Linked DNA regions of Homo sapiens. The protein of the gene in region 2 purifies or fractionates together with the protein of the main gene of each other region. This does not show direct contact. Each region holds a gene or a part of one and is shown on either strand. Other genes may lie near its edges. The genes, in order: ALG14, LRTM2 and GALNT2.

Region 1 (3,649 bases), on a different chromosome or scaffold from region 2:
GTCAAGTGGTATTTCTGCCTCTAGATTTCTGAGGAATCGCCACACTATCTTCCACAATGGTTGAACTAATTTACATTCCCACCAATACTGTAAAAGCATTCCTTTTTCTCCACAACCTCACCAACATCTGTTGTTTCTGGACTTTTTAATAATCGCCATTCTGAGTGGTGTGAGATGGTATCTCATTGTGGTTTTGATTTGCGTTTCTCTAATGATCAGTGATGTTGAGCTTTCTTTCATATGTTTGTTGGCTGCATGAATGTCTTCTTTTGAGAAGTGTCTGTTCATGTCCTTTGCCCACTTTTTAATAACAGTTTTTTTCTTGTAAATTTGTTTAAGTTCCTTGTAGACTCTGTATATTAGACCTTTGTCAGATGGACATATTGCAAAAATTTTCTCCAATCCTGTAGGTTGTCTGTTCACTCTGATGAGTTTCTTTTGCTGTGCACAAGCTCTTTAGTTTAATTAGATCACATTTTTCAATTTTTACTTTTGTTGCAATTGCTTTTGGCATTTTCATCATAAAATCTTTGCCCATGCTGGTGTCCTGAATACTACTGCTTAGATTTTCTTCTAGGGTTTTTATAATTTTGGGTTTTACATTTATGTCTTTAATCCACCTTGAGTTAGTTTCTGTATAAAGTGTAAGGAAGGAATCCAGCTTCAATTTTCTGCATATGGCTAGCCAGTTCAACTCCTTGCAAAATAGAAAATTCTTTCCCCATTGTTCGTTTTTGTCAGGTTTGTAGATCAGATGGTTGTAAATGTGTGGTCTTATTTCTGAGTTCTCTATTCTGTTCCATTGGTCTGTATCTGTTTTTGTACAAGTATCACGCTGTTTTGGTTACTGTAGCCTTGTAGTATAGTTTGAAGTCAGGTAGCATGATGCCTCCAGCTTTGTTCTTTTTGCTTAGGATTGTCTTGGCTATTTGGGCTCCTTTTTGGTTCCATATGAATTTTAAAATAGTTTCTTATAATTCTGTGAAGAATGTAAATGGTGGTTTAATGGGAATAGCATTGAATCTATAAATTACTTTGGGCAGTATAGCCATTTCACAATATTGATTCTTCCTATCCATGAGCATGGAATGTATTTCCATTTGTTTGTGTCCTCTCTGATTTCACTGAGCAGTGGTTTGTAGCTCTCCTTGAAGAGGTCCTTCACTTCCCTTGTTAGCTATATTCCTAGGTATTTTATTCTTTTTGCAGTGATTGTGAATGGGAGTTCATTCATGATTTGGGTTTCGGCTTGCCTGTTGTTGGTGTATAGGAATGCTAGTGATTCTGCACATTGATTTTGTTTCCTGAGACTTGGCTAAAGTTGCTTATCAGCTTAAGAAGTTTTTGGGCTGAGACAATGGGATTTTCTAGATATAGGATCATGTCATCTGCAAGCAAGGATAATTTGACTTCCTCTCTCCCTATCTGAATACACTTCATTTCTTTCTCTTTCCTGATTGCCCTGGCCAGAACTTCCAATACTATGTTGAATAGGAGTGGTGAGAGAGGGCATCTTTGTCTCGTGCTAATTTTCAAGGGGAATGCTTCCAGCTTTTGTCCATTCAGTATGATATTGGCTCTGGGTTTGTCATATATGGCTCTTATTATTTTGAGGTATGTTCCTTCAATACCTAGATTATTGACAGTTTTTAACACGAAAGGATGTTGAATTTTATCAAAGGCCTTTTCTGTGTCTATTGAGATAATTACGTCGTTTTTGTCTTTAGTTCTGTTTATGTGATGAATTACATTTATTGATTTGCGTATGTTGAATCAACCTTGCATCCCGGGTATGAAGCCAACTTGATCATGGTGGATAAACTTTTTGATGTGCTAAGCAACCATTTTTTAATTTGAAGATTTATTTTATAGAAATTCATATCTTTTGGTAGCAAAGGAAATGTATTTCATCACCAGCAAACATTTGACTGCCCATTGTGGGTAGGGCACTGAAGTGCCATGAGATTATTACTAGAGACAATTAAACTCAATGTGCAACTTGTAATTTTCTTAGAAATAGAAATTGTCACTTACCATGTTACTAGGGTCTCTATCAGCTCGATCTAGTTCAAAAGAATTTATTTTATTGGCACTCATTTCATCAGTGTCAGCAATGACATAATGTCTAGGTGAGTAGGCATTGGACAAGCTCCCAAGCAGCCTCAGGATCTCAGTGGTATGCCCACCTGGAAAAAATATCAGAAGTCCTAAGATTAAGAAACCCACAATGGACATATCCATTTGACCATGTTATACCAATATCATGGTTTCAGGTTGGGGGTGGGGGGGCACTGTAATTGTATATTTCTCAGAAGACACAAGGAACATTTGAAAACAATAAATCTATGCCCTCGTATAAATACAACTTTTATATCAAAAGCAGATAATACATGTATAAAAATAAAATCAGCACTAGCAGTAGGTACTAAGGAAGGCACAAAACAGTATAAGACATAGCTCTTGCTATCAAGAAGACTGGTGAGAAAGGGGCAAGACACATATATGAAGACAAAGAAGATGCAAGACAGTAAGAAAAACTAAAATGTGAAGGGTAAGCAAATGGTTATGAAAAATCAATGCCTTAAAAATAAGGAAGAACCCCGGAAAAGGCTGAGATGACTTGAAAGGTGAAGATAATGGAGAGATAGGAGTAGGGAGGCCACTGGGTGGAGATGGGGATTGTTAGGGCATGAGATGACAAGATCTGAAACATGTGTTCAAAGAGTGATAGCAATACTGGGAAGAAGGGTACAGGTGAAATAAGGCACGAAAGCAGGATGGGAAAAGGGAAGCCAGTCACTGAAGGTTCTATGTAGAGAAGTAAGGTGAAGGGGGCATGAGCGCTGATCAGCAGGGCTTGGGCCTTCCTAAGAAACATCTTTTGTTCACCACTGTAACCCCAGCTCCTATGAGAGGTCTCAGCACACTGCAGGTCCTCAAATATTTATCAGCTTCACCAAATGAGTAATGTTCAGTTTCTGAAATAATATAATCTCCAAAATTTTAATACATTAATTTTGAAAGCATAAATTTAAAAATCAACTATGTTCATTGAGACAATGAAAACATTGTTTATGAAAACAACAATAGAATATCTACCTATCTATAAACGATTTAAGCACAACAGTCAAACTCCTTATCAAGGAGCCCTATCACACCCATTTCAGTCTCGTTTCACAAGCTCTCTGCCTCAGTCAGGTTGATGTCTTCAACATTCTCTGCATTCACCTTATTCGTTACTCACTCCTTGCCTCTGGTCATGCTGCTCCCCCTACCTACAAGGCTTCCTCCACCCCACCTCCCTTATTGTTGTAAGAAAGAGTATATAGTGATACAAGAACACAAACAAAGATAAATTAAACATGAGTTTTCCCCCAACACAAATTCCCTCCACCCCCTCACCTCCCCCCAGGTGGAGTTTCACGCTTGTTGCCCAGGCTGGAATACAATTGTGTGATCTCGGCTCATTGCAACCTCCACCTCCCAGGTTCAGGCGACTCTCCTGCCTCAGCCTCCCGAGTAGCTGCAATTACATGCGTGTGCCACCACGCCCGGCTAATTTTTGTATTTTTAGTAGAGACAGAGTTTCACCACATTAGTCAGACTGGTCTTGAACTCCTGACCTCAGGTGATCCACCCACTCGGCCTC
Region 2 (4,093 bases):
ACGGCAGGAGCCTGGACCGCTCCATGCACCTGCCCCTTCCATTTCTCCTCAGATGGAGGTTAATTAATCAGTCTCAGACTCTAGCTAGAAACCTCCAGCACACTCACCACAGACCTGGTGTCCGCACCCTTCCTCTCAGGCTTCTGCGCATGTCTATCCCTCCACATCAAGCATCCAAGACACACAGCCAGATAATGCCCATCGGGCCTCCACCTCTGAATTCCTGACTCCTGGGCCATCACACTAGCCCTAGGGTGTGCCCACTCCCCTGGCATCTCCCCTTGGTCAAGAGTCCATACCCCTCAGCATGGAAGAGTCACAGAACTCAGGGGTAAAGGGGGCATTTGCAGCCTACTCTGCCGCCCCCTTCACTCTGCAGAAGGCCAGAGAGAAGCAGAGCCACGACTGGGCCCACACCCTGGGCCTGCAGGGGCCGTGCCCTTCCACCAACCCCAGGAAGGCTGAGAGGGAGCCCGGAGAGTGGCCAGCCAGAGCCCCGGGCCAAAGACGGCCCGAGATTCCATGTGGCCAGGACGCAGGGGAGGCTGCCACAGCCGTCTAGGCTGGGCTCCGCCTACCGCTGCCTGTCTGGGCACCCAGGCCCTCTAGGACAGCTGCCCATCACCCCCATCACACACACTGCCCAGGCAGCAAGGAACCAGGTTTTAAAAATCTCTATATTTGTACTTGGAACAGCCATATACCCTCCTGGTTCATTTTAAAACACATGCCCCATCCTCACCCCCAGCCTCCTGCACCCCCGTTTCCTTGTCAAATATTCTCAATCTCAAACAGACCCTCTGGGAAGCAGAACAGAGAAGCCTCCTGAGTGGCCCCTCATGGGAGCTGGTCCCTGACATGAAGGAGGCTAAGGTGTCCACTGGGCCCTGGGGCCGGGCTCAGGGTGGTGTCCCTGGGGCTGGGCTCAGGGTGGTATTCCCAGGCAGGGCACAGGAGGCTTGGCTGGGGGAAAAAGGAGGAAGACCAGAGGGGCAGACAGCCTCTATGCTGGCTCCTTTCTCCTCTGCCCACCCCCAGAACTCCCAGACACCCCCAACCATCACATACATGCCATCCCCTCCTCCTTCCTACACTGCCCACTGAGGCCATAGCAGCCCAGAGGCGGCCCCTGGGCTCTGGTGCCTGGGAAACGGGAGCAGAGTTTGCTCCTCGTGGGCCCAGACAAGCTTCTGTCAAACCCCAAAGACACCAGATCGGCTGCTTAAGCAGCCTCTCTCCTTACCCCTCCCCGCGGGCCTGGCTTTCCTGGTCTCCCTCTTTTGGCAGTGCTGAGACTTTCTTTCTGCCGGTGGGGAGGTGGGGGTGGGAAAAGCTGGGCTCTTCTTGGCAGCTCGGAAGCTGCTGTCGGGTTTCCCTACCAGCTGGACTTCCCCCGCCTCAGCTCCACGTGCTCGGCTCCCTCCCCGCCCCCACCTGAGGCAGTTATCTAAGCTGCAGGGGTGTCATCTGAGTCACAAAGAGACACTGCCCAAGTAGCCCTGACAGCCGGGTGCCAACACCCCCCAGAAATGTGGACAGCTTGGGGGTGGGGGAGAGACAGGGCCGCCAACTGGAACCCAGCCCCAGACCTGCAGGGAGGTGCAGGAATGTGAACTTCCGACTCCTGGTCAGGCTGCTCCTCTCTCCAGCACTGTCCAAATGGGTCTGGGGGATTGAGAGCAACTGTCCCGCTCTACTCAGGGTGTCCATGCCCCCTGTGTGGGTCAAGAAGCCAGGCAGGCCTGGCCCCGCTGTGTACCCCCCACCCAAGCTCAGTGTCCAGCCCCCACTAAGGCTCCCTGACCCATTTGCAGATGGACGGCTGGGTGCACAGCTGCGGGACACCCCAGCAGGTTCTCGCGGGCCTGGTTCTCCTGTCTTGCCCTTGGGCTAGCAGGGAAGGGCTGCGATACTTCTCTCTCCTGCCCACTCCCAGCCTCACCCTCACCAGGGAGGCTTCATGCACAGCTGAGTGGGCCCATGCTCATCTGGGGGAGGGTTCCTCCACACCCTTGTCCAAGGACAGCCACCTGCAGGCAAGCTATAGGGAGGCCCAGGACCTGGGTCTGTGCCCATGCCTCTGACATCCAGGACCTCCTCCCTGCCACCCTCCACCCCAAGCCTTCCTCTGACCTGGCCCTGTCCCCAGCACCTGACTGCCATCCCAACCGCTTCCCATGACCCCCGAGTTTCTTGGGGCTGTCTGTGCAGAGCCGGGCACAACGACAGCACAAGGCTCTTGGCTGCTTCTCCCATGCTGCAGGGACCGGTTTCTATGCCACCCGGGACTGTCATCTGGCGCCAGCGCTGCCCTCCTCCCCACTTCCCAGCAGAATCCACAGCTCTTGTCCCCAGCACTGTGGGCTCAGAGTTCCCAGTGTCGTGCACCTTTGGGATGCTCAGGTGCCTGAGCCCGAGCAGCTTCTTCGGCCCCAGCAATTGCCTGCAGGTAGGAAGCAACTGCAGCTATTCCTGCAGGGCAGAGATGGCCGGTGCCCACTTCCCATGCCCCGACCACCCCCTGTCCCCACCAACCCTCCATTCCTTCCTACCAGCCACTCGGTACTCACCCGTCTTTACTCTGACTGCAAACGCCTTCAATCAGGTGGCTCTCAACCCTCCAGTAAGACCCTCCTGGGATTCCTATAGAAATCCAGACACCACCGGCAGGCAGAGCGCAGTGGGCACTGGTGCCAGAGTCTCCACTCAGCGGGAGCAGCGGCTGGCACGCAGCACACAGCACCAGGAGGTGGACTGCTTGTGGCAGACGGGGGACGGGGCTGCTGGGTCAGTCACAAACTGAGAAGGAAAGAGAGGGATGGAGGGAGAGAGAGAGAGGAGAGAGGGAAGAAAGGGGCGAGGGAGGAGAGCGCACGCGTGTGCGCGAGCAGCGAGCCAGAGTGGAGCGGGGAGTGACAGCTGGGGTGCATCTGTGATGACAGCGGCAGCAGCACACACAGGCGCACACCAGAGGCACCACGGCCGGCCGCGAGGGCAGCGCTCACCCTGGCCACGCTCACATTTCAGTGGAAAAAGGCGCCTGTGGATGAATCGCTGCCGACCACAGGGAGGAGGAAAGCGGTTTCACCACCACCTCCATCTTCCATCCTGCGCCTCCAGGCTCTCCCTCACCCCCCCGGCTGCACCTGTCTTCTGTGCCTCTCTCCTCTCTTCCCCTCCATCTGGGGAAAGAGGGACAGGCGCAGACACAGAGCAAGCGGCTGACTTCTGTTCCGATGGAGGCCCCCCTGGGAAGCTGGTCTTTCTCCTGTTTTAGAGACATGCGAGGCAGAGTCTCCCATCCTGCCTGAGAGAAGGAAAAACCGAACCCTTCTCTCGGTCATACGAAAGAAGGGTACACAGGCATGTCCATGTGCCAGATGACCCTACAGGAAAGGGCCCTGAGCCCCCACAAAGCCAGGGATCACATGGTCATGCAGAGGTCACTGAGCCTCAGGGTCTGACCACCCGACGCCAGGACTACTTAGGGAAGCAGAATGCCAGAGTTGGCAGGCTGGGAGTTTGGGCACAGGGCAGCCTGCAGCAGCAGCCTGCAGACCGTTCTCAGTGCCAGGGACGAGCTTGGCTTCTCAGGGCTCCTTGCTCTTATCTGTGATGGGTCAGGCATGCGAAGGGAAGAGACTGTCATTCAAGAACTTGGAGGCCTCTTTCTTAACCAATCAGGACAAAGCAAGTCAGAAAAATTGATATCCTAAGAGATGGGAAGTGGCTGATCTGAAGGCCAAGTGAGTCAGGGACCAAGCTAGAGGGGAGCCAGGGCCCCACCAGCCTGGAGCACGAACCCTAAATCCCCCTTCCTTTGCGTCCACTGCCTGTAGACAGATGAAGCACCGTGCTAGCGATATATCACCGTGTCCTATGTCCCTCTTCCATTTTGCCTGCTTTGCTGGAGGGGTTCACAGCCAGGACTGGGGTGGGTGTAGAAGAACCCCCTGGACTCAGGATGCCCCTAGAAGGATGCTCCTGCTCACTCCCTTCTGTCCGTTCTGCCGGGTCCCCGGGCAGCACAAGGCTTGAGCTGCAGTGTCTTTTACCTCTGGGGAGTCCCGCCTCTGACCTCTCATGCTGGTGC
Region 3 (3,649 bases), on a different chromosome or scaffold from region 2:
ATGTGAGGAAAAAGAGCATCCAACATGAAAATCAAGCCGTGGTACCTCCAACACTGCCCCAGGGGAAGGCAATGCTGGGGAGGGAACGAGGCTTTGTCAGTTCCCTGGGCCAGCAAACTTCAGACTGTATTTGCAGCAAGAATGGAGTGGGAACATGCTGGGAATATGAAAACTTTAAGGGAAAATGAGCCAGCGGAAGTTGCCAAGCTGGGCAAATAAGCTTCAATTTCAGATATATTTGGCACCTGTTGCATTTCATTTTTGGAATCCACAGACCCCTGAGGATAGAAGAGCCTAGACCCTGTACCCGGACTTGGTTGTGGGCATCTGCAGGGCCTCAGGTCTCGCTCTTGCTCCCAGGGTCACACACATAGTGCCTCTTGGAGGCCAGCAGGCTCCACCTGCGGAAGCTGTCCTGGTGCATCAGGAGGCCACTTCTTGGCAAACACATGGCTCATGGTGCTGCATTTCCAATTCCAAGGGTCTGACAGCAAAACCTAATGACTCTAGGGCATGCATCTTTCAATCCTCTTAAGCTCTCTGCCATCAGGCTTTTTGTCAACAGGGCTTTTGCAATGCCTAAGTTTGGATTTGTCTGCATGCTTTGAATTCATAGTCTGTCCGCCCTGACAGCCCCAGTGACTGAAGGATGGCGGGTGAGGGTTTCTGAGTGTCCTGGGCTGGCCAAGAATTTATGGCTCTGGACAAAGAGGCCTCCCAGCTCCCTCACTGCAGGATAGAGTGGCCTCAGGCAAAGAGAGAGGGAAATGGACAGGGGCCCAGGCAGTGGGGACAGAAATGCACAGAGAGGAGACCCCTGCGGGCCCCTGAGCTGGCTCTTATCATGGTGCCTCAAAGGCCACGAAGGAAAACCAGAAAAACAATGTCCTGGCTGTTTCACTAACAGAGAAGGTTAAGGATTAGCTGACATAACCTTTCCTTTGTTTTTTTGATGTTTACTATTATCTTATTATTTATTTTATTAATTTGGTCCAAAGAGAGAGGCTATAGCAGATTAAAGATCTGTTAAGAATGGCATCCTTGATTTTTTTTCTAAAGGAATTTCATAAAATGCTCTTAGGGTGAACGTGGCCCCGTTCCTCTGACCCAGAAGACCTGCACCCCCACACGGAACACCTGGCTGTTCTTGCCCCTGCTCTGACATACGCAGCTGCTTTGGGAGAAATAGAGCCTGGTAGATCTCAGCTCTTCGAATACTTGGGGAAATACAACATTCTGAAAGCCAGGCTTTCTAGCTATCTAAGGATCCCTCCTCTTTAATGTCCCCAAACATTTTACTTCTCACCATTTGCTGGGAATCGTTCCTGAATGTTATGTTTCCCACCCTAGGTACAGTCCTCCAAGCATGCCCGCCCTCCCGCTGATGTCTAATTCCATTATGCCCTGTGTGGCCAGCACAATTATCATCCCATTTCCCAGAGGGGGAAGCTGAGAAGCAGAGGCAAAATGGCCTGCCCATGATGACGGGGCCTGCAAGAGGCAGGTGGGGCCAAAGCCCACAATGTCTAGGACCGTGGCTGAGTCTCCCTAAAAAGTCCAAGTATTCTGTTTTCTGGGGTTAAGGCTTGCTTGCACACATATGTGTGTGTGTATGAATAAGCAGGGTCTCACTCTGTCTCCCAGGGTTGATCGTGGCTCACTGCAGCCTTGACCTCCCAGGCTCAAGTGATCCTCCCACCTTAGCCCCGAGTAGCTGGCATGCCATCACACGCAGCTAATTTTTTTTTTTTTTTTTAATAGAGACAAGAGTCTTGTTATGTTGCCCAGGCTGGTCTTGAACTCCTGGGCTCAAGCAATCCTCCCACCTTAGCCTCCCCAAAGTGCTGGGATTATAAGCGTGAGCCACTGCACCTGGTCAAGGCCCTATTTTATAGTTTTACTGTCTTCTTTTTTGATGTTAGACCATCAGTTAACCCTCTGCCCAGTGTCTATCTAGAATAGTTCATCTTCACACAGATGAAAGCTCTTTGAGGTCTTTGATAATTTTTAAGAGGGTAAACAGACAAAGTGCTCTTGGGGCTCCAGGGTGGGTGCGGTGAGGACATACAGGAAACTGGTGTGGTCATTCCAACGGAAGGGGACCAGGGTGATGTAGGCACAGGTGTTGGGCTGGGAAAGAGGGGTACAAGAAACCATGATACATGCAAGGGGCTGTATCAGCAGAACAGGGTCACACGTGGGCTTGGTGAGGGCGAGGGGGTTGAGGATGACACAGGTCTCCATCTGAGCAACCAGAAAGAGACCAGGCTGTCAGAGAAATAGCCAGGGTGAGCAGAGAAGGCAAAGACAGGCTCCAGCCCCTTGAATCCCACAAAGCCTCAGCTCCGTGAAGCTTCTCACCCCAGATTCCTGCAAGGAGGGCTTCATCATCTCTGGTCATAAAGGACGCCATATCTGTTCATGGAACCACATGGCTCGCAAAAGTGACAGAAGGTCAAGGAAGAGGAGAAAGGGAAACCCAGGAAGCTCTTTAAGGGAGCAAGCCTATTTTTTTTTCTCTTTATGAAGTCCTACTCGTTAAGCACACAGGTGGTTTTTACTCAGAACACACACTACGGCGTGAACACTGTTGTCACTGTCACTCCTGACAATGAGAGGGAGTGGTGATCAGATGCTGGTGTAGACGGGACGAGCTAGGCAGGGGCACCATGACAGACACCTACCGCCCTTCAAGTCAGCAGATGCCCCCACATACTGAAAGTTGTCCATATTAATGACATCGATGATGGGTGACACAACCCGAGTCCTGTCCTAAAATACAAAGAGAGGAGTAGTTATCAAAATCCCAGCAAAACAAAAAACCTGCCCAACCACAGAAGGCATTAGTATTAGGCAGGCACAGGGCAAACCCAACTGGCCCTTACTACCTACTACCCTAGGCCCTCAAGAACCCAGCCTCCCCACCCAGACCCAGAAGGTCTTGCTCTTGGCCATCCACAGATGTGCTGTGGCCTGCTGGGAGGCAGGGAGGGAGGTCAGGAGTGGGTGCGTAGCAGGAGTCACTCTAGGAGTGGAGACACCCATGGTTATGGGACAGGTAGCCATCAGTTCACCCAGCTAAAGGCAAAAACTGTGTTGCTGTGTCCCAAGGGTCCTTTTCTGTTTGCCCAAATACCATTAGTGATTTGTGAGCTGCAGTAAACTTCAGGAATGGAGTCACTGCTAAAATGCTCATACATCAAAATTAGGAATATATTTCTATGTGGGAGTGTGTGTGTGTGAGAGAGATGTGGTAAGTATCAATATTATCACAGCAGAAGGTTAACCAAATCAACCAGAGATTTCCAGATTCTACGTTTGCCTCATCTGTAATTCTATCTTTTTTGTTTTTTTGTTTTGTTTTTTTTTTGAGACGGAGTTTCACTCTTGTTGCCCAGGCTGGAGTGCAATGGCGTGATCTTGGCTCACCACAACCGCCGCCTCGCGGGTTCAAGTGATTCTACTGCCTCAGCCTCCCAAGCAGCTGGGATTACAGATATGCACCACCACGCCCAGCTAATTTTTGTATTTTTAGTAGAGATGGGATTTCTCCATGTTGGTCAGGCTATTCTTGAACTTCTGACCTCAGGTGATCTGCCTGCCTCGGCCTCCCAAAGTGCTGGGATTACAGGCGTGAGCCACTGCGTCC

Evidence for each region.
Region 1: the proteins of LRTM2 (region 2) and ALG14 purify together in Homo sapiens (affinity purification with mass spectrometry; one large-scale study listed by BioGRID and IntAct). This does not show direct contact.
Region 3: the proteins of LRTM2 (region 2) and GALNT2 purify together in Homo sapiens (affinity purification with mass spectrometry; one large-scale study listed by BioGRID and IntAct). This does not show direct contact.

The regions. Positions count from the first base shown.
Region 1 is NC_000001.11:95,062,832-95,066,480, forward strand, and holds part of ALG14 (UDP-N-acetylglucosamine transferase subunit ALG14), read right to left. Parts: intron 2,187-3,649; coding exon 2,035-2,186; intron 1-2,034. UniProt on the Homo sapiens protein: Part of the UDP-N-acetylglucosamine transferase complex that operates in the biosynthetic pathway of dolichol-linked oligosaccharides, the glycan precursors employed in protein asparagine (N)-glycosylation.
Region 2 is NC_000012.12:1,819,292-1,823,384, reverse strand, and holds the start of LRTM2 (leucine-rich repeat and transmembrane domain-containing protein 2 precursor), read right to left. Parts: upstream 2,821-4,093; 5' UTR 2,571-2,820; intron 1-2,570.
Region 3 is NC_000001.11:230,245,186-230,248,834, reverse strand, and holds part of GALNT2 (polypeptide N-acetylgalactosaminyltransferase 2 precursor), read right to left. Parts: intron 2,773-3,649; coding exon 2,685-2,772; intron 1-2,684. UniProt on the Homo sapiens protein: Catalyzes the initial reaction in O-linked oligosaccharide biosynthesis, the transfer of an N-acetyl-D-galactosamine residue to a serine or threonine residue on the protein receptor.